Linked DNA regions of Homo sapiens. The protein of the gene in region 2 purifies or fractionates together with the protein of the main gene of each other region. This does not show direct contact. Each region holds a gene or a part of one and is shown on either strand. Other genes may lie near its edges. The genes, in order: HTR2C and DAGLB.

The links.
Region 1: the proteins of DAGLB (region 2) and HTR2C purify together in Homo sapiens (co-immunoprecipitation; one large-scale study listed by IntAct). This does not show direct contact.

The regions. Positions count from the first base shown.
Region 1 is NC_000023.11:114,849,558-114,853,381, reverse strand, and holds part of HTR2C (5-hydroxytryptamine receptor 2C isoform a precursor), read right to left. Parts: intron 1-3,824. UniProt on the Homo sapiens protein: G-protein coupled receptor for 5-hydroxytryptamine (serotonin).
Region 2 is NC_000007.14:6,409,903-6,413,726, forward strand, and holds part of DAGLB (diacylglycerol lipase-beta), read right to left. Parts: intron 3,133-3,824; coding exon 3,064-3,132; intron 2,982-3,063; coding exon 2,909-2,981; intron 479-2,908; coding exon 228-478; intron 134-227; coding exon 1-133.

The DNA.
Region 1 (3,824 bases), on a different chromosome or scaffold from region 2:
TGAACTACATGAAAATAAAATAATTTTGTATGGCAAAATACCATAGCTATATCAAATAGCAAACAGAAAATATTTTCATTTATAACATGTTAAATGGTTAGTGTCTATAACTTATAAAGAGCTATTAAATTAAGAAATAAAAATGAAAAAAAATCAGAAAAAATGAGCAAAAGGACACTTAAAACTGATTTAGCAATGGCACTGAAGTGGTTTTCATACATTTAATCATATGAACTTCAGCCAAATAAAATAGATGCAAATTAAAATTACACTGAGGTAACATTTCTCACTTATGGGATTTGCAAAATCTAAAAAGTTTGAAAATAAACTTCATTAGCAAGGCTTTGGGGAAACAGAGGCTTTCTTGCATTGCTGGTGGGAATGCAAAATGGTTCAACTCCTAACTACATGTACCCTTTGATCAATCAACTCCTCCTCTAAGAATTTATTTAGAAGATAAATTCTGAATACATTTGAGCAAGAATTTATTTAAAAGTTAAACTTCCAATAATATGAAACACACACATGCACGCGCGCGCGCACACAAACACACAAGACAGACACACATGCACGCACGCACACACAAAGGACACACACACACACACACACACACACACAATTATTCTTAGTAGAATTATTGGCAACTTCCAAATGTTGGAAACAACTTACCTGATTATACACAGAAGATTGGTTAAATAAAGTATATCAACACAATCTATTATTAGTGAGTGTAAAAAATAATAGAATGAATTTAGCTTTTAATTGGAGTATTTAGGCCATTTACATGATAAAGTTGGGTGCATATCTATCATCTTACAAATTGATAGAGTGATTTCCAGGACATATTTCCAAGTAAAAGAACAAAGCAAAACAAAGTATTAATTTGTATGTAGCATTTTAACTTTTAATTTAAGAATGGAAAAATAACAATACGTGTATTTGTGTATAATCTTTTTTTTTTTTGCAAAAATAAATTCAAGAAGTATGCCCTAGAAACTAATGAATGGGTTAACCACGGAATAGAAGAGGAACTGACTCTTCTCTGAGTATTTTATTTGCCTAGTTTTGACTGTTGGAGCATCATATTAAAGTTTTACATATTAAAAAATAAAGTCAACAAGGTTGGGGAATACATGCAAAAACAAAACAAAATCCCTAAATGTGAACAATTGGTATCAGAACCACAGAGAAAAAAAATTCAAACTAATCCTAGCATTTTGAAGACAATGCTTTGACTATATGCCATTGGTGGAAAACATTCTAAAGATAAAATTGCAATGAAATTTTAAACATTGCATTTCATTTATTGGTAGTGGTATGGGTATAGAAATTCTGAAATTAATTTCTTGTATGGTAGGATATAGAAAATATAAATAATAAATATATCAATGGTTTGGGGACAAAGTTACTCACTGTGAGAAAAATGAGGAAAAATAAAGAATTGGAAAGTAGCAAGAGTCCTGTGTTCGTGAATTGGGATTAAAGGTATTGATATATAGGAGCAATGATATCCTATTAGCAATGAGCATACTGAGCTTCTGCATCCTGCTTTATAAAACCATTGCCCACTAAAAGGGTTTCTTGTAAGAAATGGCTAATTTCGGAACTGGGGCATGGAAAGTAAAAGGTGAGTCTGGCAAATGCTCAAAAGCTGATGGGATATATGAAAAGGAGTTCTTATTAGAAAAATATGAGACAATTTGAGCATCAAAATAATTAAGGGCAATAATGAATCATATATATTACACTGAATACAAAAGAATCCAGGAGTCTCCACCAACATGAACTAATAAATAACAAAGACTTGGAGGGAAAACACTTCCTTACAGTATAATACCAACAAATAAAGGCAGGAAGAATAATAAAATGAGAAAAATTATCATTGTATCACCTTAGTAATAGATAGCTTAGGGAAGAATCATCAATGGATTTGAAATCCATTAGGTCAAAGTTTATTGGGAAACAATTTCTTAATTTCCAAATATACGAAGGTTTTTCTACTATTTTGAAGTCATTTCTATTTCTTTTGAATTTCAGTCAAAGAATAAACAATTTATTCCAACCCTTTGGAATGTGTTGAGGAATTACTTTATGGTCAGTTTTGATAAATATTTCTTGTGCAATGATGGGAATATGTATTCTTCACTTGTCAGTGAGTTCAGGTTTGTTAATTGTTTTCATACAATCGCTGAGAAGGATGTGCTAAGATCTTATGCGATGATTGTAGACTTGTCTATCTGTCCCTGAAGTTCTGTCCTCTTTTACTTTATAATGTATATACTATGTATATTACATATGTATCTACATATAATTATGTACATACAAATTTATTACCTTATGTCTTCCAGATGTATTAAATCTTTCATAGTAAGTAATCTTCTTTCACTGGAGTATTTGTTTTTTGCCGAAAAGTCTATTTTGACAAATATTAATATAGCTATACAGTCTTTCTCTTGGATAGTGTTTAGATGGAGGAATTTTTTTGTTTGTTTTTATCCTTTTACTTTCTTTATGCTTTATATATGCCTCTTGTAACATATAGTTGTCTTATTTTTTTGAAAGCCTATATGACAGTCTTAGAATCCTTAGTAATTCATATAATTAGGGATATATTTGGTTTTAATTCTGCCATTCAGTATACGTTTTATATTTTTCTATCTTTTATTGACTCCTTTTGGATTTATCTTATTATTTCATTTTATCTTTTATTTGTAGAGACAAAGTGTTGCTTTCTCATCAAGGCTGAAGTGTCATAGCACGATCATAGCTCACTGCAACCTCAAGACACTTGAGTTCAAGTGATGCTCCTGCCTCAACCTTCTGAGTAGCTAGGGCTACAGGCACATGCCACCATACCCAGCTAATTTTTAATATTTTATAATAATCTTCTGTAAATTTGGAAATTCGCCATCTCTAATCTGCCACAGAGTTCTTAGGTTTTCATTTTTTAATTAATTAATTTTTTTTGTGTGTGTGACAGAGTCTCACTCTGTTGCCCAGGCTGGAGCGCAGTGGCATGATCTCAGCTCACTGCAGACTTGACCTCTGAGGGTCAAGTGATCCTCCCACCACAGCCTCCCAAGTAGCTGGGATTACAGGCGTGTGCTACCATACCTGGCTAATTTTTGTATTTTTAGTAGAGATGGGGTTTCATCATGTTGTCCAGGCTAGTCTTGAACTCCTGGCCACAAGTGATCCGCCTGCATCGGCCTCCCAAAGTGCTGGAATTACAGGTGTAAGACACTGCCTGGCCCTTAGTTTTTCATATTATGCTTAAGTTCCATATTTTCTAGGTGTTTCTCAAATCTTAATGTCATTTGTTATAGTTTGCAGTTTCTTGCTGAAGTGTTTAAGATCAGCATGTAATTTCCATGTGCACATTCCAAATGATTATTTAAAGTGTATGTCTGATAATTCAATTATCTGAAGTGTTTGTAAGTTTATTTCTGTTATCTCTTATTGTCCCATACCTGATTCATGTTGTATTGTCTCCTCATATATCTGCATATCATTGTATTTCAGTGACAGCATTTGAAAATTATTGAAAGAAATAAGTTGAAATCTAGGATTATGGGGTTTTTTTTGTTTGTTTATGCCCCAAAATTGGAAACCTGAATAATACGAAATCATCTTAATCCAATTTTAAGGCCCAAGATTTCTCTCATTTACATAGATGACTTGAACCAGGGCTGAATTCCATGTCTATGGTGATTTAATCCTGGTCGATCCTTATTCCTAGTGTCTGGTTTTTTTGTGATCCCAGAATTAAATTCAGGTTGGTTGGCCCTTGCCAGACTCTGTATTCCTACTCTAGTCCTCCATTG
Region 2 (3,824 bases):
CACGCTGTCCAAGGCCCGCATCAGGATGTCTGGCATGTGGTCGGTGAGCATCTTCGGACCTATGAGTATTTTGCTGAATTCCGCTTCGTGTGACCACTTGGCGCTATAGTGAGCAGCAGAGCAGCAGCCAAACCTGAAGCAGAAAAGGAGAGACAGCTCCCACGCGGCCCCAGGGCTGACCCCGCGCTGCTCCTGCCTGCCCACCACACCCACCACGCCGCACTCACCGCCCCGAGGCGCCCTCCTCCTGCAGGTGGATGATCCTGCCGGGAGGGTAGAGAGGGGGGTACTTGGGAGAAGAGTCCAGTGGGGAGTCGCTGGAGAAGCTGTAGGCCGGGGACCAGCGCGTCAGTAGGCTCTGCTCCCCCAGAAGAGGCTGTGTCAGGACTTCCTGGTCGCCCCCGTCCAGCTCCGTGGGCAAGTTGTTGGGGTTTCCTCCAAACAGTTCGTACCACAAACCGTGCAGCAAGATCTTGTACTGAGGGCGAGACCCAATCAGTAGAATGCTGTCACTCACCCTCTGTCACCCGAGACCTCCCGAAACACCAAGGCGGACCAGGCACAGGAATCTGCCCTTTGACCCAGAAACCCCGCTTGGAAGACTCCAGCAAAGATGCACCGGCGAGCTGTGCTGGGTGGCAGCCACCTCGGCTCAGGACAAGGCTCTATGCCTAGTCACAGATCATGAGTGTGGGCTCTCTCTTGGGCAGTAAAACCATCACACGTGGAGCAATATTAAAAACTAAGCCATACAGACTGTGAGGGATATTTCCCTTAATTATTTTCCGGCAATTCTGGAAATCAGCTTTACCCTTCCTTCCCTGAAAGGCATTAGATATTAATTTCTATGGGCTGGAGCGCAATGGCGTGATCTTGGCTCCACAATCTGCCTCCCGAATTCAAGCGATTCTCCTACCTCAGCCTACTGAGTAGCTCGGCTTACAGGCTCCTGCCACCATGCCCGGCTAATTTTTTGTATTTTTTTTTTTTTTTTTTTTTTGAGACGGAGTCTCACTCTGTTGCCCAGGCTGGAGTGCAGTGGCACAATCTTGGCTCTCTGCAAGCTCCGCCTCCCGGGTTCACGCCATTCTCCTGCCTCAGCCACCAGAGTAGCTGGGACTACAGGCACCCGCCACCGCACCCGGCTAATTTTTTGTATTTTTAATAGAGACGGGGTTTCACCGTGGTCTCTATCTCCTGACCTCGTGATCCACCCGCCTTGGCCTCCCAAAGTGCTGGGATTACAGGCGTGAGCCACCGCGCCCGGCCTAATTTTTTGTATTTTTAGTAGAGACGGGGTTTCTCCATGTTAGTCAGGCTGGTCTCGAACTCCCGACCTCAGGTGATCCACCCACCTCAGCCTCCCAAAGTGCTGGGATTACAGGCGTGAGCCACCGGGCCCGCCCTAGATACTAATTTCTAAAAAAAATTTTAGGCTGGGCACAGCAGTGGCTCACACCTGTAATCCCAGCACTTTGGGAGGTCAAGGCAAGCAGATTGCTTCAGCCCCGAAGTTTGAGACCAGCCTGGGCAACATGGTAAGACCCTGTCTCTACAAAAAATACAAAAATTAGCCAGGTGTGTTGGCGCATGCCTGTAGTGTAGCCCCAGCTACTCAGGAGGCTGAGGTGGGAGGATCAGTTGAACTTGGGAGGCTGCAATGTGCCGAGACTGCGCCACTGCACTCCAGCCTGGGTGACAAAGCGAGACCCTGTCTCAAAAAAGAAAAAACTGGGGGAGGTAATTGGTAAGGAGAAAAATTTAAATTGCGTTTCTTCTTTCTGATTAGGAACAAAACCATGAGAAAGGTCAGAAAACAAAGGGATTAAACAAGTAAAAATCATCTCTACCGACACTAAACAAAACCACCCTTGGCATACGTATTTTCAAATTTTTGTCAAAATTCATATATCTGTATCTCCTTGTCCCCACTCTCTGCCATGAGTCATATCTCTTAAGAATAATTTTTAAGTTTTTTTTCTTTTGAACTTTTCAATGGATATCTATCTTTATCGGCAGACAGAAATTTCTTCTTTTTGGAGACAGAGCCTCACTCTATCCAACAGGCTGGAGTGCGATCTTGGCTTATGCAACCTCGGCCTCCTGGGTTCAAGCGATTCTTCTGCCTCAGCCTACCAAGTAGCTGGGATTACAGGCACTCACCACCACCCCTGGCTCATTTTTGTATTTTTACTAGAGACGGGGTTTTGCCATGTCGACCACTCTGGTCTCGATCTCCTGACTCAGGTGATCTGCCTGCCTTAGCCTCCCAAAGGGCTGGGATTACAAGCGTGACCCACCGCGCCTGGCCAGCAGACATAAATTTCTACCACCATGTTAAAAAACCCTTGACGTGGACATATATCACCATTTTAATAACTGCATGATATCCACAGTGTAGATAAATGTGCCTGTACCTCTTAAGGTCTATTTGGCAGCCTTGCTTTCTAAGCTTTCGGACAACAAAGCCAAAAGGCATTAACAAACTGTTAGTCACAAGACAGGACTAAGAAGTTTGTCAGAAAGCAAAATCAAACAGTTCCTCCAGAGTATTTTCTTTTCTTTTTTTTTTTTTAGAATAGAGACAGGGTCTTGTTGTGTTGCCCAGGTTGGCCTCAAGGGATCCTCCTGCCTTGGCCTCCTGAGGTGCTGGGATTCCAGGCATACACCACTGCTCCCAGCCCAGATCCTGTTTCCTCCCTGTGACATTTCCCGCACTTGCTGCAGCCATTTGCTTTCTTAGACATCACAGAGTCCTAGCCCAGAATCTGATCAGATGGTGGAAGGAGAACTTCCAGCAACAGCATAGAGTGCCCTGCACTGAGGGTGCAATTCCTCCCGGCTCTCCACAGGATCTCAGGGACAGGCCCCGTGTCCTGCTGACCCTCTCAACAAGGCACCCGCTTACCTTGGGTTTATTGCAGTGCGCGACCACTCGCAAGATTCTTCTCTTCAGATCTTCCAAGTTGGTCACACTGAGCCTGTTTAGCAAAGGGGCACACTGAGGCTGGGACCTGGCACTCCCAACCCCCCAGCCCTGGGCACAGCACCAGGTGGGCTTACCTGGGAATCACATCCTTCCCCAGGACGAGTGACACGATGAAGCTCTGAGAATATTCCTGCAGAGCTTTGCTGAAATTCCAAACAGAGAGAGGATGTTAGCTTTACGATGACACTGCCCACAAGGGCTTCCATGAAAGAAATCAGTAACACTGAGGGGTTAGGTTCCCAGGCCTCAGCTCTGTTCTCTCTTCTCTAAAGGGAGGGTAGGGGAAACGTCAGTTATGGCAACTCACTGGCCAGATCCTACTAAAGCCACAATATGTGTTCAACAGAGACGCCCCGCAGCTAAAACCGCAAACTGGACACCAAGGCGGACCAAGCACATGGATCTGTCCTTTGACCCAGAAACCGCGCTTGGAAGACTCCATCAAAGATGCACTGGAGGCCGGGTGCAGTGGCTCACGCCTGTAATCCCAGCACTTTGGGAGGCCGAGGCAGGCGGATCACAAGGTCAGGAGATTGAAACCATCCTGGCTAACACGGTAAAAGCCCGTCTCTACTAAAAATACAAAAAATTAGCCAGGCGTGGTGGTGGGCGCCTGTAGTCCCAGCTACTCAGGAGGCTGAGGTAGGAGAATGGCATGAACCCGGGAGGCGGAGCTGGCAGTGAACTGAGATCGCGCCACTGCACTCCAGCCTGGGCGACAGAGCGAGACTCCATCTCAAAAGAAAAAAAAAAAAAAAAGATGCCCCAGCAAAAATGAAGGGGCAGAGGCAACAGGCGATTCACTGCGGCAGAACCTGCACCGGCAGAGGCTGGA